Regions from separate parts of the Homo sapiens genome. Here region 2 is linked to region 1. Evidence: fine-mapped expression QTL. A gene starts in region 1. The other region holds a variant in brackets. All regions are shown on one strand. Distances are between the middles of the regions. Region 1 holds the start of ULK2 (unc-51 like autophagy activating kinase 2). Region 2 overlaps ULK2 (unc-51 like autophagy activating kinase 2).

The links. PIP is the estimated chance that this variant, and not a neighbour inherited with it, causes the effect. A credible set is the group of variants that fine-mapping cannot tell apart.
Region 2: its variant is the best candidate, but not a certain one, in a credible set for the expression of ULK2 in whole blood (INTERVAL, PIP 0.65).

Annotation. Positions count from the first base shown.
Region 1 is chr17:19,864,317-19,880,446 of GRCh38, reverse strand. It overlaps ULK2 (unc-51 like autophagy activating kinase 2), which reads left to right and starts at 12,511. Exons shown (of 27, transcript NM_014683.4): 1 at 12,511-13,119; 2 at 14,619-14,711; 3 at 15,603-15,644. The coding sequence starts at 13,030. RefSeq lists silencers at 12,458-13,047, 13,128-13,307 and an enhancer at 12,886-13,394.
Region 2 is chr17:19,821,903-19,829,902 of GRCh38, reverse strand. ULK2 (unc-51 like autophagy activating kinase 2) reads left to right here. Exons shown (of 27, transcript NM_014683.4): 11 at 3,717-3,764; 12 at 4,721-4,809. Among named protein-coding and RNA genes, the nearest start is that of TRG-CCC3-1, 35 kb to the left of the region's middle. The variant G/T (reference allele first, on the strand shown) is at 3,593.

The DNA.
Region 1 (16,130 bases):
GCTCACTGCAATCTCTGCCTCCCAGATTCAAGCTATTCTCGTGCCTCAGCCTCCCGAGTAGCTGAGATTACAGATGTGCACCACCATGCTCAGCTAATTTTTTGTATTTTTAGTAGAGATGGGGTTTCACCATGTTGGCCAGGCTGGTTTTGAACTCCTGGCCTCAAGCAATCCACCCACCTCAGCCTCCCAAAGTGCTGGGATTACAGGCGTGAGCCACTGTGCTTAGCTAGCAGCAAGATTTTTAAATTGAGCATATCTTAATAAAGAGTGTGGCCCAGGCACGGTGGCTCACGCCTATAATCTTAGCACCTTGGGAGCCCGAGACAGGTGGTCAGGGGTTCAAGACCAGCCTGGCCAACATGGCAAAACCCCGTCTCTGCTAAAAATACAAAAATTAGCTGGGTGTGGTGGCACATGCCTGTAATCCTAGTTACTCGGGAGGCTGAGGCGGGAGAATTGCTTGAACCCAGGAGGCAGAGGTTGCAGTGAGCCAATATCATGCCAGCGCACTCCAGCCTGGGCAAGACAGTGAGACTCTGTCTCAAAAAAAAGAAAGAAAGAAAGAGTGTGCTGGTCAGATGCGGTGTCGCACACCTGTCATTCCAGTGTTTTGGGAGGCTGAGGTGGGAGGATTGCTTGAGCCTAGCAGTTGGAGGCTGCAGTGAGCTATGATCACACCACTGTACTCTAGCCTGGGCAACAGAGTGGGACCCTTTCGAAAGAAAGGAAGAAAAAAATGAAAGGAAGCAAGGGGGAAAAGAGGGAGGTGGGGGAGTAAAGAGTGTACTAATCAGAAAGGGGCTGAGAGCCCTGGAAGAATGAAAAGGCAGAGTCAAGGAGACAATATGGGGAGAGAGAGTATTGCCTTGCCAAGGGTGATGCCTTCAACGGCATTGCCCGAGGTCAGCAGACACCCTGGGCTCAGATTCCAGCTTACTCAGTACCCCTGAATCTATGGCTTCCCAGGTGGCTTTGCAGAGCTGAGGGTATGTGAGGAGCTACTTACTGTTACCAGCATTTTAGCCCACCAGACAGTTCATCTATTCATTCATTCAACAAGTATTTAGGAGTGAACAAAATTGACAAAGTAGCCAGGTGCAGTGGCTTGAGCCTGTAATCCTGGCACCCTTTGGGAGGAGAAGGCAGTAGGATCACTTGAGTTCAGAGCCTGGGCAACAGAGTGAGACCCTCTCTCTGAAATACATATACATATATATAATATATGTATTTTATATTCATATTTACAATTTTAATATATATATTAAAATAATAATAGAAATAACTGACAAAACCCCTGTTCTCAAGAAATGTATTCTCTAGTGGAGGAAGCTGACCATCAAACAAACAAACTAGGTAGGATGTTAGCTGGTGATGGGTACGAAGGAGAAAATGAAACCTGGAAAGGGAGATAGGAATTGTAGAGGGAGGAATACAACTTGACAAAAGGAGGCCAGGGATAGCCTCACTGAGCAGGTGACATCTCAGTAAAGACCTGAAGGAAGTGAGGGCGTGATCCTTGCAGATAGAGTGAGAGCATTCCCAGAGGAAGAAACAGCATGTTTAGGAGCCCTGAAGCAGGAGGCCAGGCAAACTGGGGGAAGGTGACATGAGATGTGGACACATGGGAAACAGGCCAGATGGTGAAGGGTCTTGCAGGTTATTGTTAAGGACTTTCCTTTGATTGGATGAGAGGACTTTGTAGGGTTTTTAACAAAGAACAACATAATCTGGGTTACTCTTTTCCTTTTAAAGACTTTATTTTTATCTTTTTAGTTACTTTTATTTCGATTTGTACAAATGTATTGGGTACACGTGCAATTTTGTTGCATGCATAGATTCCCCAGTGGTCAAGTCAGGGCTTTTAGTGCACCCATCAGGTACATTGCACCCTTTAACTAATTTCTTATCATCCACCCCTCCCCCTCGCAGCTCCTCACCCTTCTGAGTCTCCATTGTCTAGCATTCTACTCTACGTCCATGTGCACACATTTCTTAGTACCCACTTATGAGTGAGAACATGCAGTATTTTATTTTCTGTACCTGTCTTGTTTCACTTAAGATAATGACTGACCTCCATTTCTACCCATGATGCTGCCAAAAACATAATTTCATTTTTTTTTTTTTGAGACGGAGTCTCCCTCTGTCACCCAAGCTGGAGTGCAGTGGCTCGATCTTTGCTCACGGCAACCTCTGCCTCCTGGGTTCAAGTGATTCTCCTGCCTCAGTCTCCTGAGTAGCTGGGATTACAGGCATGCACCACCATGCCTGGTGAATTGTTCTTGTATTTTTAGTAAAGATGAGGTTTCACCATGTTGGTCAGGCTGGTCTCGAACTCCTGACCTCATGATCCGCCCTCCTCAGCCTCCCAAAGTGTTGGGATTACAGGCGTGAGCCACCGCACCCGGCCAATAATTTCATTCTTCTAATGGCTGAATGATATTCCATTGTGTATATGCACCACACTTTCTTTATTCATTCACCTGTTGATGGACACTTAGGTTGATTTTGTATCTTTGCTATTGTGAATAATGCTGCGATAAACATACAAGTGCAAGTATCCCTTTGATACACTAATTTCTTTTCGTTTGGGTAGATACCCATAGAGGGACTGCTGGATTGAATGACATTATGGTTCTATTTTCAGTTTGTGAGAGATCTTCACATCGTTTTCCACAGAGGCTGTACTAATTTACATTCCTACCAACGGCATATAAGAGTTCCCTTCTCTCTGCAGCCTCACCAACATCTGTTATTTTTTGTCCGTTTAATAATAGCCATTCTGACTGGTGTGAGATGATATCTCATTGTGGTTTTAATGTGCATTTTGCTGATAATTAGTGGTGCTGAGCATTTTTTAGGACTTTACTTTTTAAAGCAGTTTTAGGTTCACAGCAAAATTGAGCAGAAAGTACAGCAAGTTCCCACACACTCCCTGCCCCCACTGCATGCACAGTCTTCCCCACTGTCAACATCCCCCATCAGAGTGCTGCATTGGTCACAATCCATCAGGCTACACTGGCACACTCTAATCACCTGAAGTCCACCGTTTACAGGAGGGTTTTTACATTAGTGTTTTCTCTTGGTGATAGACGTACTATGGGTTTGGACAGATGTCAAAGTTGGGAGAAGTTCACCTTTAATCAGAAATGAATGTTGGATTTTGTCAAATGCTTTTTCTGGTTTAGTTTTTAACAGCTGAAACTTTCCCTCACAAATCAATACATTCGGCTTCTGGGATATATGTCACAGCCTCTAGGATTGTGATTCATGTGAACTCCTCTTGAGAGAGACTCTCACCCTGATCTCTGGGTGCTCATGAAATCAGGTTCATGGACCTGCCAGGCCAAGTTCTGCATCCCAACTGAGGTGGTTTCTCTAGAGCAGGCAACCCGTTGTGAAGCCTTAGGGAGGACATGGGCTGCAGCTTCTCAGGGTGACCCCCTCGCTATCAAGGCACAGCGCTGTGGGCTGTGGGTTCTACTGGTCTCAGGGTTCTACTGATGTCTCTGCTATGTCTGCACTGAGATCACACACACAGTTTTAGTTCTTGTTGCTGGTGGGTTTTGCTTCTTCCTTCCTTTGAAGAAGGCTGGCAGCCTCCAAGAGCTTCGTCCCTGAGAGGCGTGGCATGTGGGCATGTGTGTGCCGTGTGGTTGACCTCGGGCAAGATCCCTACCACATCCCCGAGAGGCAGAGGAGATGGCTTCGGGCCCCCTGCGCAGGGCAGGGCGTTCACTTCCTCTTGAGTTGGGGGAAGATATCAGCTCAGCAATTCTCACCACGGTAGGGAGAAAAAGGGAAATATTAGTTTCCCAGTGTTAGCAATTACACAACAGCCAGAAATCAGTCCTCCTGATTATAGACTCCTCCAAGGAGGAACTGAGGGCTGCAGGGGCTGCACGGAAAGAATAGCCTTGGGAGTAATATCAAGAGATAGGTCTGTCTTTGTAATAAATCAGAAAAATCAATGCTTTATTTTTATCTATTTATTTATTTTTGAGACAGAGTTTCCCTTTTGTTGCCCAGACTGGAGTGCAATGGCACGGTCTCGGCTCCTGCAACCTCTGCCTCCCGGGTTCAACCGATTCTCCTGCCTCAGTCTCCTAAGTAGCTGGGATTACAGGCGCGTGCCACCACGCCCAGGTAATTTTGGTATTTTTAGTAGAGACGGGGTTTCACCATGTTGGCCAGGCTGATCTTGAACTCCTGACCTCAGGTGATGCATCCGCCTTGGCCTCCCAAAGTGCTGGGATTACAGGAGTGAGCCACTGCCGCCGGCCACCAACTCTTTACTCTCATCTTCATAATACATCATCAGGACCTCCTGACTGTCCCACCAATGTTTCACAAGTCAGTGAACTTGTCTCTATCTCTGTCTGCCACCAGCAGTCACTAAACATCATCATCTCCATTTCTACAGATGGCACAGAGGCCCAGAGAGGTGAAGGAAAGCCTAAGGTCCTACAGCCAGGATGTGGCACAATTTGGAACTGAACCTACTTTACTGCAAACAGCACAGTGTAGATGAAGCCTGGCCTCTTACGGCACTAGCTTGAGCTTGGACTAGTGGAGCAGTTCTCAAACCTTTCATCTCAGAAACCCTTCACACCCTGAAAATGTTTTGAGAATCCCAAAGAGCTTTGGTTTATGTAGGCTAGACCTATTGACATATGCATAATGTATCAGAAATTAAAAACAGAAATTGGCCAGGTGTGGTGGCTCACACCTGTAAGCTCAGCAATTTGAGGCAGGAGTATCCCTTGAGCCCAGAAGTTTGAGACCAGCCTGGGCAACAAGTGAGACCCCATCTCTAAAAAAATTTTTTAAAGTAGCCCAGCACAGCGGCTCATGTCTGTGCTTCCAGCTACCCAAGGTGGGAGGATTGCTTGAGCTCAGGAGGTCAAGACTGCAGTGAGCTGTGATTGTACCACTCACTGCCCTCCGGCCTGGGTAACAGAGTGATAACCTGATTTAAAAAAAAGAGAGAGAAATTTTTGGCCGGGCACAGTGCCTCATGCCTGTAATCCCAGTACTGTGGGAGGCCAAGGTGGGTGGATCACCTGAGGTCAGAAGTTTGAGACCAGCCTGGCCAACATGGCGAAACTGCCGTCTCTACTAGAAAGACAAAAAAAAAATCAGCTGGGCCTGGTGGCCCTCTGTCTCCTGGGTTCAAACGATTCTCATGCCTCAGCCTCCTGGAAAAAAAAAAGAGAGAAAAAATTGAATTTTCTATTATAAATCATTTATTAAAACCAGACCCTTAAAAAGTTTCATTTATTTATTATTTAGCCACTCCCATGTTACAGTTTTTATGTTTTTATTAAACTTTCTAAATCAGGATGGATTCCTTTTTTTTTTTTGAGACTGAGTCTTGCTCTTTCTCCCAGGCTGAAGTGCAGTGGGGTGATTTCGGCTGACTGTAACCTCCGCCTACCGGGTTCAAGTGATTCTCCCACCTCAGCCTCCCAAGTAGATGGGATTACAGGCATTCGCTACCACACCCAGCTAATTTTTGTATTTTTAGTAGAGATAGGGCTTCACTATGTTGGTCAGGCTGGTCTTGAACTCCTGGTCTCAGGTGATCCACCCACCTCAGCCTCCCAAGTGCTGTGATTACACGCCGGGCCGAGTCACAGGAAAAAAAAAATTTAATAGATGCTTTCAGATATTTTTTCTGCCAGTTCCACATAATTCACAGGACACACTAAATAATCTTTAAAGTCTTAAAATTTGCATTTAAGTACATTATTAAAATATTTTAATATGAAATAATAGATGTGGCATTGATAATGGTAGAAAATTACGGCTTGACTTCCAAGTGTTCCCGAAAGTTGTTGCAGTAGCCTTGGGGACATGCTGCCCAGACCTTCCCTGGAGGACGAACATGCTGCGAGGCTGTGGTAGCACAGTAAACGTCCAGCAGTCAACTCCTCCTGGCCTCAGCAGCAGAGCAGCCTCACCGCCCTGTCAGGGGCCTGGGTGGCCCCACCAGGTTGCTGAGTGAGGCGTGACATTTTGGCTCAATGCGGGACAACTCTGATGTTCTGCTCCAGAGCTTTCTGCTGAGGAGGTTAGGCATGGTCGAGCCTGCATCACAGTTCTTCCTCTTCTGTCCCGTTCTGCTTCCAGCCCCCATTTTTCTCCCCCTGGTGTTAATCCCTAATAATCATCTGTACCTCAAGTCCAGGTCAGCATCTCTTTGCAGAGAACGCAACCAAGGACAGTTGTTTTGTCATTTCAGTGGGTCTTTGCTTCGTAAGAGGGAGCTCAAATCTAGATTGCAATGGCACATCTACATTGGTCTCATTCCTTTTTTCTTTCTTTTTTTTTTTTTTTTTTCTGAGACCAAGTCTCGCTGTGTCGCCCAGGCTGGAGTGCAATGGTGCCATCTTGGCTCACTACAACCTCTGCATCCTGAGTTCAAGTGATTCTCCCCCCTCAGCCTCCTGAGTAGCTGAGATTACAGGTGTGTGCCACCACACCTGGCTAATTTTTGTATTTTCAGCAGAGACAGGGTTTCATCATGTTGGCCAGGCTGGTCTCAAACTCCCGATCTCAAGTGATCCACCCACCTCGGCCTCCCAAAGTGCTGGGATTATAGGCATGAGCCACTGTGCCTGGCCAGTCTTATTCTTTTTTGAAGTTCTAGTAAATCCATCATGGCTGAAAATGCTCTATTCTTTCTAAACCATACAGTAGATTCTGCTGACATTTTTGAAGTGCTTCCAGATAGCGGAACAGGGGAGGTTCCTGGAGGGTGCTGTGCCTGGAGAGGACATAGAAGCTCCATGCCCCTTCCCACATGCCTTGACCTGTGCATCTGTTCACCTAAGACACATGCTCACCAGTGCCCAGATGAGGAAGTAAGAGCTGTGGACAACAGTGTGCTGAACAGAATTGGGGAACCCAGCTTCTTCTCGATCCCCTTTCATAGTCCTTTTGGACATGACCTTATCAGACAGGCTGGAAGTAGGAGTTGGCGGGGCCTCTAGCACCTTCCTGGATAAGGTCCCAACCTAACTTCCCAGCCCCATCTCCCACTATTCTATCCAACCCATCCAACCATGTACCTTACATTCTTGCTATGCCAAACAGCCCACTGGTTCCCACAATGCCACATTTTGAACACGCTCCTTTCACTCACCTTTCCTACTTGGCAGGCTCTGATACATCTTTCAAGACTTTTCTCCAACATGACTTTCTTCCAGAAAACTTTGCAACCCCAAGCAATGTTAGAGTCGTCTTCTTCTGGTTTCACCATGTTGGCAAGGCTGATCTCAAACTCCTGACCTCAAGTGATCATGTGGGAAGGGACATGGAGCTTCTATGTCCTCTCCAGGCGCAGCACCCTCCAGGAACCTCCACCTGTTCAGCTATCTGGAAGCACTTCAAAATGTCAACAGAATCTACTGTACGGTTTAGAAAGAATAGAGCATTTTCAGCCATGATCCCAAAATGCCTGTAATCCCAAAATGCTGGGATTACAGGTGTGAGCCACCGTGCCCGGCCTGGTCAATTGTTTTATTTTTTGTAGAGAAGAGGTTTTCCTATGTTGCCCAGACTGGTCTTGAACTCCTGAGCTCAAGCAATCTGCCTGCCTCATTCTCCTAAAATGCTGGAGTTACAGTCTTGGGCCACTGTGCCTGGCCTGAAATGCAAATTTTTTTTTTTTTTTTTTTTTTTTTGAGATGGAGTCTCACTCTGTCGCTCAGGCTGGAGTACAGTGGCGCGATCTTGGCTCACTGCAAGCTCCGCCTCCCAGGTTCACGCCATTCTCCTGCCTCAGCCTCCCTAGCAGCTGGGACTGCAGGTGCCCGCCACCACGCCCAGCTAATTTTTTGTATTTTTAGTAGAGACTAGGTTTCACCGTGCTAGCCAGGATGGTCTCGATCTCCTGACCTCGTGATCTGCCTGCCTCAGCCTCTCAAAGTGCTGGGATTACAGGCATGAGCCACTGAGCCCGACCTGAGATGCAAATTTTATACTGATTTTTTTTTTTTTGAGACAGAGTCTCGCTGTGTTGCCCAGGCTGGAGTGCAGTGGCATGATCTCAGCTCACTGCAAGCTCTGCCTCCCGGGTCCACGCCATTCTCCTACCTCAGCCTCTGGAGTAGCTGAGACTACAGGCGCCCACCACCATGCCCAGCTAGTTTTTTGTATTTTTAGTAGAGATGGGGTTTCACCATGTTAGCCAGGATGGTCTTGATCTCCTGACCTTGTGATCTGCCCGCCTCGGCCTCTCAAAGTGCTGGGATTGCAGGCGTGAGCCACCGCGCCTGGCCAAATTTTATACTGATTTTTGCACAATATAAAAAGATGCTCCCTGCTGTTTTTGTTTGTTTGTTTGTTTTTTGCATTGCATCAAAATATTCCTAGGCTGAACTTTGTTACTGATATCATTTCAGAAAATTTACATTTATTATTCAGAAGATTTGTCATTATGGTATTTTTTAAAACTTTAAAAAACATACTAAAAATTTGTTATTGCTTCCTTTTTTGTGCTTATTTTTCGTATTTTATTGTAAATTCTTGCATTTATAAATATCAAAGCACTGCACCCTAACTATTCACAAGAATTTCAAAGCATCAGCAATGTCATCAAAGTAGAAACAATAGAACCAAAATAGAAGGAATAGCAATGATGTAATTTGAAGATAATAATAAACTGGCTATTCTCCTGCATCTTGGAATGCCTCCCTGCCCAGCAGAATATTTCTCACATTTATTTTCACAGGATACCTTTTATCATCAGAACATTTCTATAGCACTGGATGATAAACTAAACAGTTTATATTAGAATTTATATTAGTAATTAATTTTTTTTTAAGACAGTGTCTCATTTGTCACCTAGGCTGGAGTGCAGTGGTGCGATCCCGGTTCACCACAACCTCTGCCTCCCGGGTTCAAGCAACTTTCCTGCCTCAGCCTCCCGAGTAGCTAGGATTACAGGCGAATGTCACCACACCTGGCTAGTGTGTGTGTGTGTGTGTGTGTGTGTGTGTGTGTGTGTGCATGTGTGTGAGATGGATTTTTGCTCCTCTCATCCAAGCTGGAGTGCAATGGTGCAATCTTGGTTCACTGCAACCTCCGCCTCCTAGGTTCAAGTGATTCTCCTGCCTTAGCCTCCCGAGTAGCTGGGATTACAGGCACACACCACCACGCTCGGCTACTTTTTGTACTTTTAGTAGAGATGGGGTTTCACCATGTTGGCCAGGCTGGTCTGGAACTCCTGACCTCAGGTGATCCACCCACCTCAGTCTCCCAAAGTGCTGGGATTATAGGCGTGAGCCCCTGTGCCTGGCCTATATTAGTAATTAATTTTACCTCTCATTGCAGTTACTGTTTTTCTATTTACTAACTGGTATTGAAACATTTCAACAGTTAAGCATGTTTAGACACACATGCATATGCACACACAGGACAAATTAAGAACAATGAACATGAATCAAATTGGCAATTTCCAGTGATTTTAGAGGTAAACTAGAAATCTGCCCTGGCCTCCATTCTCAAATGAAGCCTAAATTTGACCTAGGGTGAACACTTCCTGGGGTGCCTATGTGGCCCCTGCTTCTGGGGACTCAGAACACCCACAGGCTTGTGTTGGGGGCAGCCATAGTTACATGATCCTGCCTTCCTCAGTCCCATTCCTGGCTTCCGATGATTGTTCAGGGCCCAGCACCCAGCTGAAGTTAGGTTGATCAGAATCCCCTCCTTAAGAATTTGGTGGCTGGGCCCAGTGGCTCACGCCTGTAATCTTAGCACTTTGGGAGGCCGAGGCAGGCGGGTTACCTAAGGTCAGGGGTTCAAGATCAGCCTGGCCAACATGGTGAAACCCCGCCTCTACTAAAAAAGCAAAAAAAATTTTAGCTAGGTGCAGTGGCACGCAACTGTAATCCCAGCTACTTGGGAGGCTGAGGCAGGAGAATCGCTTGAACCTGGAAGGCGGAGGTTGCGGTGAGCCGAGATCGTAACACTGTACTCCACCCTGGGCGACAGAGCAAGACTTCGTCTCAAAAAAAAAAAAAATTTGGTTTGGAGACTGGGGCTGCCATTGCCACCATGTAGGAGATCTCAGGCAAGAGAACAAAGCAGGGGCACAGACGGAAGGCAGTTCTCTTTGAGATCCTGGTTCTGCGGGTAGTTTGCTTTTGAAGCCCAACTTTGAACTCTGAGAAGCACACCTGTATCTTTATCTACATTCTTTATTTTTCACTTTATCACATTTGACGTTTGCTATTTGCTACCAACATAGTCCTAACTAAACATTTTTTAGCAAAGCACCCCCTGCCTCCTGCCCCCACTTCTTTTCTGACTCTTGAGGTCAGAAATCCTGCACATTTTGCTTTTCAAATGGATATGTCCATGGGGCCCATGTTTGGCCTGTGAATACAGGACACGCATGTCCAAACGAAGGGCCTATTGGAGGTTTCTGAAAAATACCTTCATGTGGCCGGGCGCAGTGGCTCACGCCTGTAATCCCAGCACTTTGGTAGGCCGAGGTGGGCGGATCACGAGGTCAGGAGATGGAGACTGTCCTGGCTAACACGGTGAAACCCCGTCTCTACTAAAAACATACAAAAAATTAACCGGGCGTGGTGGCGGGTGCCTGTAGTCCCAGTTACTCCGGAGGCTGAGGCAGGAGAATGGCGTGAACCCGGGAGGCAGAGCTTGCAGTGAGCTGAGATCGTGCCACTGCACTCCAGTCTGGGCGACAGAGCAAGACTCCGTCTCAAAACAAACAAACAAACAAACAAAAAACCTTCATGTGGCTAGGTGAGGTGGCTCACACCTATAATCCCAGCACTTTGGGAGGCCGAAGTGGGCGGATCGCTTGAAGTTGGGAGTTTTGAGACCAGCCTAGCCAACATGGTGAAACCCCACCTCTACTAAAAAAAAAAAAATTAGCCGGGCATGGTGGTGCAGGTCTGCAATCCCAGATACTTGGGAGGCTGAGGCAGGAGAATCACTTGAACCCAGGAGGCGGAGGCTGCAGTGGGCCGAGATCATGCCATTGCACTCCAGCCTGGGCAACAGAGCAAGACTCTGTCTCAAAACAAAAAACAGGCCGGGCGTGGTGGCTCACGCCTGTAATCCCAGCACTTTGAGAGGCCGAGACAGGCTGATCCCTTGAAGTTGGGAGTTTGAGACCAGCCTGGCCAACATGGTGAAACCCCATCTCTACTAAGATACAAAAATTAGCTGGGCGTGGTGGTGCGTGCCTGTAATTCTAGCTGCTTGGGAGGCTCAGGCAGCAGAATCACTTGCACTTGGGAGGCAGAGGTTGCAGTGAACCAAGATTGTGCTACCGCACTCCAGCCTGGGTGACAGAGTAAGATTCTGTCTCAAAAAAAAAAAAAAAAAAAAAAGTAAACAAAAAAATAGACTGTAGAGAATCTTTCAGTGAGGTAAGGAATCATCTCCATCCATTTTTGGGTGTATGTGCAAACTTGCTTAAGTTGCTGTCAACTTTTGAAGGCTCCAGATTTTCAGTGTCTAACACAACCACCTGGGCCAGATGTAAGTAAGGACAGGATAACGTAAGCGTGCACAGTAGCAGAAGCAGAAACTCAAGGCCCTACGTTTTGAGCGTGTGAGGAAGGAGCGTTCTCTCAGAATCCTGGAGCTGACTCTGTCATGGTTCAGAGATCAGCTTGCAGGGACAGGCAGTGGCAGTCGAGGTGGTGACAGACCCCAAAAGCACATACCCTATACAACCGAACACACACTCAAGTGTGGAGCCTGCGTATTCCATGGTAGTTTCAAGCATATTGTTTATTAAATGGTTTCATAAGACACTTCTTTGCGGGAAACCTGACAATCTGTTCCTTGTCACTTGGACAGCTTTAACAATCAGGTAGAAAAGAAAGCTCCCTTCGGCCATGTGAAGTAAGCCCGAGGTCAAACTAGCCTGACACTAGGAGCTCCCAGGAGAACCTTGAAAACGTGTGCGATTCTGAGTCGGTGTGCAGAAACGATTCTCTGCGAAGAGGGCCCTGAGCTGTCACCAGCTTCTCGCAGTCAAGGGACCCCCAAAAGGTGCAGAATCCCGCCTGTCACCGTCCCTCTAGGGATCCTAAGCGAGTAAACCCCGAGAGGCGTCCGAAGGCTGGCAGTTTGGCAGCGTGAACTCTGGTTTTCCAGAGCGCGGGCAAAGCCTGGAGTAGCAGTTGCTCCTTTGCTCTGGCAGGAATCTGGGGGTCTACCCTGCGCAGATAATCCCGTCCTGCCTGCAGCTGGGGTTCAAGACCCGCTTCTCTGAAGTCCGCCTCCCAGCGGCCTGGAGCCCGGGGCGTGGTCGGCTCGAATCTGCTCCCCAGGCCCAGAACGGAGCCCGCAGCCCGTAACCCGCTGTGGCCGCAGCGGGTCGCGCCCTTCGTCCCCGCCTCAGGAGCGGCCGAGGATCTGCCCAGCTGCGGGCGCCAAGCCCTGGCCGCACTCCTTTCCCCGGCGGAGGGAGCCGGCTGGCGCTGCGGCCTTCAAGGCGCGCGGACGTCGCGGAGGGCAGCCAGTCGCGCGGGAGCGGGTAGCGCGCGCGAGGGCGTTGGGCGCCGCCGCGAGGCGGGGAAGCGCGGGGCCGCGGCGGTGCGGGTTCTAGGGCGGCGGCCGTCGCCGTCGCAGCAGCGCCCCGAGCGGGGAGGGCCGAGGAGGCCCGACGAGCTGGGGATGGAGAGTACCGGGCCCCTCACTGCCTCAGAGCGCGTGTGCGGCTCTGGGCGCGCACAGTGACGGTGACGGCACCCCTGGCCCGGCAGCGCCGAGGCCGCTTCGCCAGACAGCCAGCGGCCGGCGGCAGGCCGGGCCATGAGCGGCAGGGGCCGGGCCGGGCCTCGCTGACCCTGGCTCCGCGCGGCAGCTTCCCCAGTTTCCGCTCCGGTCTCTCGGCATGAGAGTCCGCCCGGGCCCGGGGCTGCGGCTGCCCCAGACCCGCCGCACGCTGGCGCGCTCCGGGCCCGCGGAGCCGCGGTGCTGATACCTGCGCCGCACTGCGCCGCCCGCCCGTCCGCTGTGTGCCCCGGGGGCGCGGCCATGGAGGTGGTGGGTGACTTCGAGTACAGCAAGAGGGATCTCGTGGGACACGGGGCCTTCGCCGTGGTCTTCCGGGGGCGGCACCGCCAGGTGAGCGCCGGCCGGGGCGAGGCCGGGCCCCGGGCGGCAGGCACGGGGCTAGGTGGTTCTGAAACTTGGCGCAGCCGCGAGCCGAGACCCCCGACTCGGCTAGCCGCCCGGGTATGCTATTGTGCGCGCAGCCCGTCTCGCCGTTTGTTTTGGTCCTGTGAGGGTTGTTGTGAGGCCCAAGCCTCTGGCAGCGCTCCGCCTACCGACCGGCTGCTGCTGATCCTCCTGTGTGCCCGGGGCCCACCCCGCGGTCCGCCCGCAGGAGCGTTTGCACCCAGGTTACCCTGGACCCAAAATAGACGGTACTGCACCGTGCAGACTCGAGGGTTGGGCGTGAATGGACCTTTGGTTTTTTTCCCCGTGCCCAGGGCTGGTCACTTTTGAGGTTGATAATTACAGACCCAGCGGAAAATGGGCGGATGTCCCATTAGCCTCAGGCTTTCGCAGCCTGGGAGGTGTCACCTTTCCCAGCACTGGTCCCCTGCACCCCGAAGAGCCCCCGTACCGTTTTCCCCCCCGGAGTCAGATAGACGAGCTCCGGGTGAGAAAGGTGGTTGGACAATTCATTTTCAATCACCTTGAACATGAAATCACCTTTAAGCCTTAAAAAAATTGTTTTAAGCCTTTGCTGTTTCGCAAGTACAGTTACACGAGGTTTTAGAATCTAAAGAATTTGGAAAGGCATATCGGGAGTGGAAATAATCTTAAAGGGTGTGGCAGTTCTGATTGTTGCCCAAGGGGCGTGTTAAAAGTGGGCTGACTTTGTTGCTTATCGGATGAAGTAATGCTACTTTTCTTATTTATTTATTTATTTATTTTTGAGACAGAGTCTCGCTTTGTCGCCGAGGCTGGAGTGCCGTGGCGAGATCTCCGCTCACTGCAACCGCTGCCTCCCGGGCTCAAGCGATTCTCCTGCCTCAGCCTCCTGAGTAGCTGGGATTACAGGTGCCCGCCACCACGCCCGCCTAATTTTTTTTTTTTTGTATTTTTAGTAGAGATGGGGTTTCACCACGTTGGCCAGTGTGGTCTTGAACTCCTGACCTCAGGTGATCCGATCTGCCCGCCTCAGCCTCCCAAAGTGCTGGGATTACAGGTGTGAGCCACGGCTCCCGGCCTACTTTTCATTTATTAGGAAAATAATTTAGAACTCAAGCACGGTGTAATCCTTCCAAGCTAACAAATAACTTTTCAATTAACTGTATCACCTTCCAAGTTTATTTCTACATTTGTCCATAACTTTGAAGTGGTTGTGAACTGTTCTTTTTTCATTTAATGTTAGTTACCATGTGGACTTCATATTTGTTATTTTTAGAAGTTGTGTTGTAGGATCTTGGCATATTGCACTATAATTTATGAAATCACTTTCCAATTATTGAAAATAATTCCATTTTTCCCCAATGCCGTACATTTATTTGCCAAAAACACCTTCGCGCTTGTAAATTTTTTTCTGTTATTTATGTGGAATGGTATCTAGGAGTAACACTGTTTTTCCTTTTCAGAAAACTGATTGGGAGGTAGCTATTAAAAGTATTAATAAAAAGAACTTGTCAAAATCACAAATACTGCTTGGAAAGGAAATTAAAATCTTAAAGGTATGTTACTTTATGTAGTAGTATTCATATAAGGTTAAAACTTAATTTAAATGAATACATGCTGCCATCCTTTTCAATTTTGGTAGTTGGGTCCAAGTTTGAGAATTTTCAACTGTTGCTCTCCTTTTTGCATGCTCACTTTTTTAAAACATTGAGTACTCGGAAGCTATTTTTAAGAACCAAAGCTCAGAGGGATTCTGTGAAGACTGAGTTTAGCTTCTCATCATTTCTCTTTTTCCTAGTGACTGTGTTGTTGTTTGAGAAGAGGGCCAGGCAGACCCATCTTGTACATTGTTTTTACCTCTCCTGTTGTCCCCTTTCATGTTACTACTAAGTTTTTTGGGGGGAGTAGGGGTGCTTGGGGTCTTTCTTTAAATTGAAGAAAGTTATATTCCTTGGAGGTGGCCTTTTTAGATCACTCACAACCAGTGTTATCTAAGTGGGATGGTTTGAGAAGATGGTTGAGTACGTTTGGAAAACCCCATTTACTAAATACTTCTTGGAGAGTCACAAAGCCTATGGCTCATTAAAGAAAGTCTGAAAAATTCTACAATGAAGAAACTTGTTTCAAAGTACTTAACCTGGTGTTTTCCAAACTAATACAAGCGTGGAACCCTCATTTAACACCCGATTTCCTCAAAACTGCTTCCTGTGGAGAGCTCTTTTTTAAGAATTGTAGCTCTTTGAGCTAAAAATCATATTTTCTTTCAGTGAGATAATGTGCTTTTTGTTTGATCAGGCACATTTCTTATTCTTTAATTGAATTTTTATAGTCTTAATATAAGTATAATACTAGAAGTGTATGTGTATACTTTAATTTTATTTACATATTAAAATATAGTAAAGTCATTAGAATACTTACATATTTTTCATTCTCAATTTTCTTAATAGGAACTTCAGCATGAAAATATTGTAGCACTCTATGATGTTCAGGTACCTTATTTTGAAAATTTTTAAAAATTAAAATAAATTTTTTTTAATTTCATACAGATTTAAGTGACTCTTAATAGAAATAAAAATGACCTTAATTCTTGTTGAAAAGATGCATAGCTTGAGTTACATGTTTCTGAATTAAGAAATTGTTTAAAACAGAACAGAGTAATAGGCTGAAAGAATTTGCTGCATGAGTAAGTTTATTAACAATTGATAATACACTATAGGTGTAGCATTGTTTTAGGTGAAGTAGAGGACTGTTGATACCAGATCTAGCATTCTCTGATGAATGTTGAAAGGACAATTAAAAATAGAGCTTTTTTTTTTTTTGATGGAGTCTCACTCTGTCTCTTGGGCTGCAGTGCAGTGGCTTGATCTCGGCTCACTGCAACTGCTACCTCCCGGGTTTAAGCGATTCTCCTGCCTCAGCCTCCCGAGTAGCTAGGACTATAGGTGTGCACCACCATGCCCAGCTAATTTTGTGTG
Region 2 (8,000 bases), 46 kb after region 1:
CTTAAATTTTCTTGGTTAATTGACCCTTCTATCATTATTTAATACCTTTTTTTTTTTTTTTTTTGAAATGGAGTCTCGCTCTGTCACCCAGGCTGGAGTGCAGTGGCGCGATCTCGGTTTACTGCAACAACCTCCGCCTCCTAGGTTCAAGCGATTCTCCTGCCTCAGCCTCCCAAGTAGCTGGGACTACAGGTGCCTGCCACCATGCCCAGCTAATTTTTATATTTTTAGTAGAGACAGGATTTCACCATGTTGGTCAGGCTGGTCTCAAACTCCTGACCTTGTGATCCACCCTCCTCAGCCTCCTAAAGTGCTGGGATTACAGGCGTGAGCTACCGTGCCCAGCCCCCCCCCTTTTTTTTTTCCTTGACAGGGTCTCATCCTGTCACCTAGTCTGGAGTGCGGTGGTGCAGTCTTGGCTCACTGAAACCTCTGCCTCCTGGGCTCAAGTGATCCTCTCACCTCTGCCCCTCAAGTAGCTGGGACTACAGGTGCAAAGCTACCACACCTGGCTAATTTTTGTATTTTTTGTGGAGACAGGGTTTCACCATTTTTTCCAGGCTGATCTAGAACTCTTGAACTCAAACGATCCACCCACCTTGGGCCTCCCAAGTGCTAGGATTACAGGCTTAAGCCAGTGTACTTGGCCTTATTTAACGTACTTTTTGTCTTTTATAACAGTTTTCAATTCAAATTCTATTTTGTCTGATAGTCAACTTTGCCCTTCTCTTTTGCTTAGTATTTGCCTGGGAATAGCTTTTTCCATTATTTTGCTTTCAAATATTTGTGTCTTTAGATTTAAAGCGAGTCTCTTTTTCTTTTTTCTTTTCTTTTTGAGATGGAGTCTTACACTTTCACCCAGGCTGGAGTGCAGTGGCACAATCTCAGCTCACTGCAACCTCTGTGTCCCGAGTTCAGGCGATCCTCTCACTTCAGCTGGGACCACAGATGTGCAGCACCATGCCTAGCTAATTTTTTTGTATTTTTGGTTTCACCATGTTGCCCAGGCTGGTCTTGAATTCCTGAGCTTAAGAGATCTGCCTGGGATTAGAGGCGTGAGCCACCTCACATGGCCTAAAGGGAGTCTCTGTTCTGTTTACAGATTATAGTTGGATTATTTCCTTTTAATCTACTTTGCCAGTCTCTGCCTAAGGAGATCTATTTACATTTAAAGTAATTACTGATGAGGAAAGATTTTCACCATTTTACTATTTTTATGTCTTACAGCTTTTTTGTCCCACATTTCTCCCATTACTGCTCTCTTTAGTGTTGTTTTTTATAGTAATGTGTTTTGATTCCTTTCTCATTTCCTTCTGTGTATATTTTTCCTTGTGGTTACCTGCGGATTACATATAACATCTAAAGTTACTGAATTCATATTAACTTTAGTTGCACACAAAAACTCTACTTCTGTATTGCTTTATACCCCCTTTATGTTGATATCACAAATTATATCTTTATGATAATTTTAATGCATTTGTCTTTTAAACTCTGTAGAAAGTGAAAAAGTGAAGTTACAAACCAAAATTACAGTACTATTGGATTTTAAATTGCCAGTGCATTTATCTTTTCCGGAGATCTTCATGTCTTCATGTGGCTTTTTACTGTCTAGCTCTTTTCATTTCAACCTGAAGTACTCTCTTTAGCATTTCTTATAGGGGAGGTCTTGTGGTAATGAATTCCCTCAGCTTTTGTTTTTCTGGGGATATCTTAATTTCTTCCTGAGTTTTGAAGGACAGTTTTGTGGAATGTAGAATTCTCAGTTAACTTTTTTTTCTTTCAGCACTTTAGATAATATCCCACTGCCTTCTGGCCTCAAGATTTTTGATGGGAAATTGGCTGATATTCTTATTAAGGATCCCTGTATATTACAAGTTGCTTCTCTCTTGCTTCCAAGATTCTCTCTGTCTTTTGAAAGTTTGATTCTGTAACTCTGTGTGGGTCTCATCAGTTTATCTTAAAGTTTTTGGAAGTTGCTTTTTTTTTTTTTTTGAGACAGAGTTTCGCCCTTGGTGCCTAGGCTGGAGCGCAATGGCAGGTTCTCGGCTCACCGCAACCTCCACCTTCCGGGTTCAAGCGATTCCCCTGCCTCAGCCTCCTGAGTAGCTGGGATTACAGGCATGTGCCACCATGCCTGTTAATTTTGTATTTTTAGTAGAGACGGGGTTTCTCCATGTTGGTCAGGCTGGTCTCAAACTCCTGACCTCAGGTGATCTACCTACCTCTGCCTCCCAAAGTGCTGGGATTATAGGCGTGAGCCACCACGCCCGGTCCAACCTAATTCTTATCTTAGGTAAAAACAGCTACTTGAAAATGTCAGACCAGAGAAATCATTAAGACATGTTTAATGAAAATACTTAGCAAATTAACCCTGATCTTGTAGTTTTTAGGGAAAAAAGTGTTTGACTTTTCCTGTAGTAATAGTTGTAATACTAACAGAGATTTGTGGAAATATACTCCAGGATTTTGGTTTGCTAATGTATAGTATAATAGGGAAACCCACATTGGTATTTAAATAAGTTGGACTAGAATTTGAATTCTAGTCCCTCACCTTACTAACTCTTTGACATTGGACAAGAAACATGGCCTTTGTGTGCTTTTAATTTTATTACCCATCATAGGAGGACATACTTCCTCAGATAAGGTTTGTGAAGCACCCAGTTCATTGTCTTAGTGAATGTTGAATACTCAGTAGAGGATAGCTGTAATTGTTTCCATGTCGGGGAAAAGATGAAATGGTCTGAATACCTATTTTCTTAATGTTTTGTAAAGTTGGACTAAAATTAAGTTCATGTAGTTGGAAATATTTATACCTATTAGGGAGAAGTTAAGCTGAGAGTTGCTCTGAACCATGAGAATTATGGTCAATAGTGAAACAACTATTATGGAGAATGGTTTTAAAATTATTGAATGTATTGTTTTTGTAGTTTCTTTTTTTTTTTTTTTGAGACGGAGTCTCGCTCTGTCACCCAGGCTGGAGTGCAGTGGCGCGATCTCGGCTCACTGCAAGCTCCGCCTCCCGGGTTCACGCCATTCTCCTGCCTCAGCCTCCCGAGTAGCTGGGACTACAGGCGCCGGCCGCCATGCCCAGCTAATTTTTTGTATCTTTAGTAGAGACAGGGTTTCACCGTGTTAGCCAGGATGGTCTCAATCTCCTGACCTTAGGTGATCTGCCTGCCTCGGCCTCCCAAAGTGCTGGGCTTACGGGCGTGAGCCACCACACCCGGCCAGTTTTTTCTCTTTTTAATGTGAAACCAGCATCAGGAATACTTGTAGGGGCGAAGGATAGTTTGTTGTATAAATCAGCTGTATCAATTTCCTCTTAGGACAATTAACAGCTGTAGTTCACATGGGTGCTTAACAAGGGCCTGGTGATCACAGTTCTCCTGTGGGGCTGTCCACTGGAGGGTGGCATACGTTAGAGAACATGTCTGTGTAAGTAGCATCAGAGTATGTTGTGCTGGTGATAGATGTTTTGAGAATTCGTAATTATTTAAAATTTGTTATTGATTCATTATTTTATATGATTATAAAAATAATTATTTTATAGAGGATTTATAAAAAATACGCTTTTACATTTAAAGGAAATGGA[G/T]CCTATATAAAGAAGTTAAATTCTGATCTCAAAGACATTATATTGAATACGTTGAGAAAAAATAACCTGGTTGATAGTTTAGTCAATGTCTCTTTAAAGGTTGCATTCTCATTTCTTGTTACAGAAGCATTTTTTAGCCATCCTTTTCTTGAGCAAGGTCCAGTAAAAAAATGTGAGTATCCATTTTTTGTATTTTCACTTAAAGAATGAATGCAAGCTTTAGGAAAAATTAATGATTTTTACTACAAAATTCATCTTTTATTGTGACTCCTAAAATTTCATTGAATTTATTTATTTATTTATTTATTTTTTTTTTTTTTTTTTGAGATGGAGTTTCGCTCTTGTTGCCCAGGCTGGAGTGCAGTGGCGTGATCTCGGCTCACAGCAACCTCCACCTCCCGGGTTCAAGCCATTCTCCTGCCTCAGCCTCTGGAGTAGCTGGGATTACAGGCATGCGCCACCATGCCCGGCTAATTTTGTATTTTTAGTAGAGATGGGGTTTCTCCATGTTGGTCAGGCTGGTCTCGAACTCCGGACCTCAGGTGATCCACCCGCCTCAGCCCCACAAAGTGCTGGAATTACAGGTGTGAGCCACCACACCCAGCTACTTTTTTTTTTAAACGGAGTCTTGCTCTGTCACTCAGGCTGGAGTGCAGTGGTACAACCTCTGCTTCCTGGTTTCAAGTGATTCTCCTGCCTCAGCCTCTGGAGTAGCTGGGATTACAGGCGGGCACTACCACACCTGGCTAATTTTTGTATTTTTAGTAGAGACGAGGTTTCACCATGTTGGTCAGGCTGGTCTCAAACTCCTGACCTCAAGTGATCCTCCTGCCTCAGCCTCCCAAAGTGTTGGGATTATAGGAGTGAGCCTCTGCTCCCAGCCTGATTTTCTTAGATACCTACGGTTGTGTTTATTTAATAACTGTTCTATTTTTCCTTCTGAAACGAAGTTGAAATAGTTTTAGTAATTGCTGCATTTTTAGTTTCATCAGCAGATGTGGTAATAAATAGGTAAATGCAGATTTTGGGGGAACACAAAGGTGTAGTAGTTTTGGCAAGTGTTTCTGTTATACAGGTCATGTGACTGCACTACAAAATGATGTAGTTCATTTGTGTTTCTTCCCCTAGCTTGCCCAGTTCCAGTGCCCATGTATTCTGGTTCTGTCTCTGGAAGCTCCTGTGGCAGCTCTCCATCTTGTCGTTTTGCTTCTCCACCAGTAAGTTACAGTTTATTAAAAATAATTTCAGAGTTAGTGCTATTACATCTTTTCTCAAATGGAGCATGCACATACACTGTGGATATTCTTTTTATGTGTAATGTTTACTAATGTAGCTGAGATTTGGGGGAAAGAACATGATAGTTGGGTCAAATGGACCTGCATTCGGGCCTCTGTCCATATGTTACTGTGTAAGCTCCAGAAAGAAATGTCACCTCTCTGGGCCATTTTCCTCTGAACAGTGAGTATAGCACTATCACCTTCTTATACCCTATGGTGTTTTGGTGATGATACTTGCAAACAGAGTACCCATTACAGGTGGATAGGCAATAAATATTTATTTGATCTGAATGCCGTAGACATGAGCTTGGATTTTTTTTGTATGTGGAATTTCTACTGAGGGAGGAGTCACCTCTGAGCCAGATTTCACTGACTTAGATTCTCTTAATCATGATTTCTGGCGCTTTAAGGTGGCTTCTACTCAAACCTCTTCCTTTCCCTGAAGCTCCCAAGGCATTTTCTTCATGGCTGTGTTCCCTCCCATCTCAGTACTTCTTCCTAATCCTGAGGCCTTCTGGTCACTCTAGTCACTTCTTCCTACTCCACTCTTCTCTTAGGCTTTTTTTTTTTTTTTTTTTTTTTTTTTTGAGATGGAGTTTCGCTCTGTCGCCCAGGCTGGAGTTTAGTGGCTCCATCTTGGCTCACTGCAACCTCCGCCTCCTGGGTTTAAGCGATTCTCCCAGCCTCAGCCTCCCAAGTAGCTGGGACTGTAGGCGCACACCACCACACCCAGCTAATTTTTTGTATCTTTTGTAGAGACGGGGTTTCACTATGTTGGCCAGGCTGGTCTGAAACTCCTGAACTCAAGTGATCTGCCCGCCTTGGCCTCCCAAAGTGTGAGCCACGGCACCCTGCCCCAGACATCAATTTCTTGAATGCCGCTGGCAGAAAGATAGGGGAGCCATAAAAGTGAGACAACTCAGAGGTTTAAGTGGATGGGGCTTGCAGCCTCCATGTACCTTACCTGTCATATAGGACACCTTTTTTTTGTATGTCAAGTAAGTGTAATTTACCTACCTCGTAGGGTTCTTCAGGGATAAGTGAGTGTAAGCACTTATTGCATGCAGGGTCTGACACATAGTATATAACGCAAGGGGTGGCAACTGTTAGGTAAAGCAGATGCAGATGTAGCCTGTTGCAAACAGACAAGTCTCAAAACTGGCAGCAAACCTTTCTTACACAGCCCCGCAAATTCATACCAAATAGATAAAGCAGATTATGTTAATAAGACTTATGTTATGTTCTGGTGAACTAAAAAAATTAAGAGCCAGACACGCTGGCACCAATCCTAGCCCTGCTGCTTGCCCACTCAGTGACTTTGGGCCGGTCAGTTAGAGAGGTGGGCCATGGTGTCCTCATCTGGACCATAGGCTTGTTTAACCTTTGCTTGCAGGGTCCTGGTAGTAAGATGTGGGAAGTGCCTAGCCATGGCAAAGTCTCAATAAATTGTGGCTATTATTATGAACCATATATTTGACACAATGTAATATGAAAAGCAAAGCTTGTGCTAGAGGAAAGAACAACAGGGAAGAATCTAATTTTGGGAGAGCAAACATAAAGGAGCCTGTGGGGTGATAGTGTGACTGAGGGATGAGAGAGGCCAGTAGGGAGGACGTTGAACTGGAAATTTTCTTTGACTGGAGAGAGCATTTTGGGGTTTTTGTTGGTTGAAAGAGGAGGACAAAATAGGAGCCAGGCTAGGGCTGCCAAGGAGTAGCTGAATGTAGAACTAACTGGAGGAGTGAAGAGAGGCAGGAGAAAGAGAAAGTCTTTTTTAGATGTTAAAAACTCTGGTGGACAAACCTATTTTTTCTGAGGCAGGAATATTGTTTGATTCCAGGAGTTCAAGACCAGCGTGGGCAACATATCAAGACCACCCATCTCTACTAAAAAAAAAAAAAAAAAAATAGCCAGGCGTGCCTGGGCATGACTGTAGACTCAGCTGTAAGGGAGGCTGAAATGGGAGGATTGCTTGATCCCAGGAGTTCAAGGCCAGACTGGGCAACATAGTAAGAACCTGCCTCTATTAAAAAAAAAAAAAAAAATCCGGCTGGGTGTGGTGACTCACGCCTGTAATCCTAGCACTTTGGGAGGCTGAGGTGGCCAGATCATGAGACCGGGATATCAAGACCGTCCTGGCTAACACGGTGAAACCCCATCTCTACTGAAAATACAAAAAATTAGCTGGGCATGGTGGCACGCGCCTGTAGTCCCACCTACTCGAGAGGCTGAGGCAGGAGAATCGCTTGAACCCGGGAGGCGGAGGTTGCAGTGAGCTAAGATCGCTCAACTGCACTCCAGCCTGAGCGACAGAGCGAGACTCCATCTCAATAAAAAAAAACAAACCAAACAAAAAACAGTAAACGGGCCGGGTGTGGTGGTTCATGCCTATAATCCCAGCACTTTGGAAGTCTGAGGCGGGTGGACCACTTGAGGTCAGGAGTTTGAGACCAGCCTGGCCAACATGCCAAAACCCTGTCTTGGTGTTTTTTCAAATAACAAAAATTGGCTGGGCGTGGCGGCGTGCACCTGTAATCCCAGATACTCAGGAGGCTGAGGCAGTAGAATCACTTGAACCCAGGAGGCAGAGGCTGCAGTGAGCCAAGATCATGCCACTGCACTCCAGCGTAGGTAACAGAGCGAGACTCTATCTCAAAAAAAAAAATAAAATAAAAAATAAAATAAGTCACTGGCATAAACATATCCTTTTTATGTCTTATTCATTAGAGTTCTTTAAAAAGTAAGGTTGGGCCAGGCTCAGTGGCTCACGCCTGTAATCCAGCACCTTGGGAGACCAAGGTGGGTGGATCGCTTGAGATTAGGAGTTTGAGACCTGCCTGGCCAACATGGTGAAAACCTGTCTCTACTAAAAATACAAAAATTAGCCAGGTGTGGTGGCGTGCGCCTGTAATCCCAGCTACTTGGGAGGCTGAGGTGGGAGAATCACTTGAACCCAGCAGGTGGAGATTGCAGTGAGCTGAGATTGTGCCACTGCAGAGCAAGACTTTGTGACTTTCTCTCAAAGAAAAAAAAAAAAAAGATAAGGTCAGCTGGGTGTGCTTGCTCACGCCTGTAATCCCAGCACTTTGGAAGGCCAAGGTGGGAGGATTGCTTGAGCCCAGGAGTTTGAG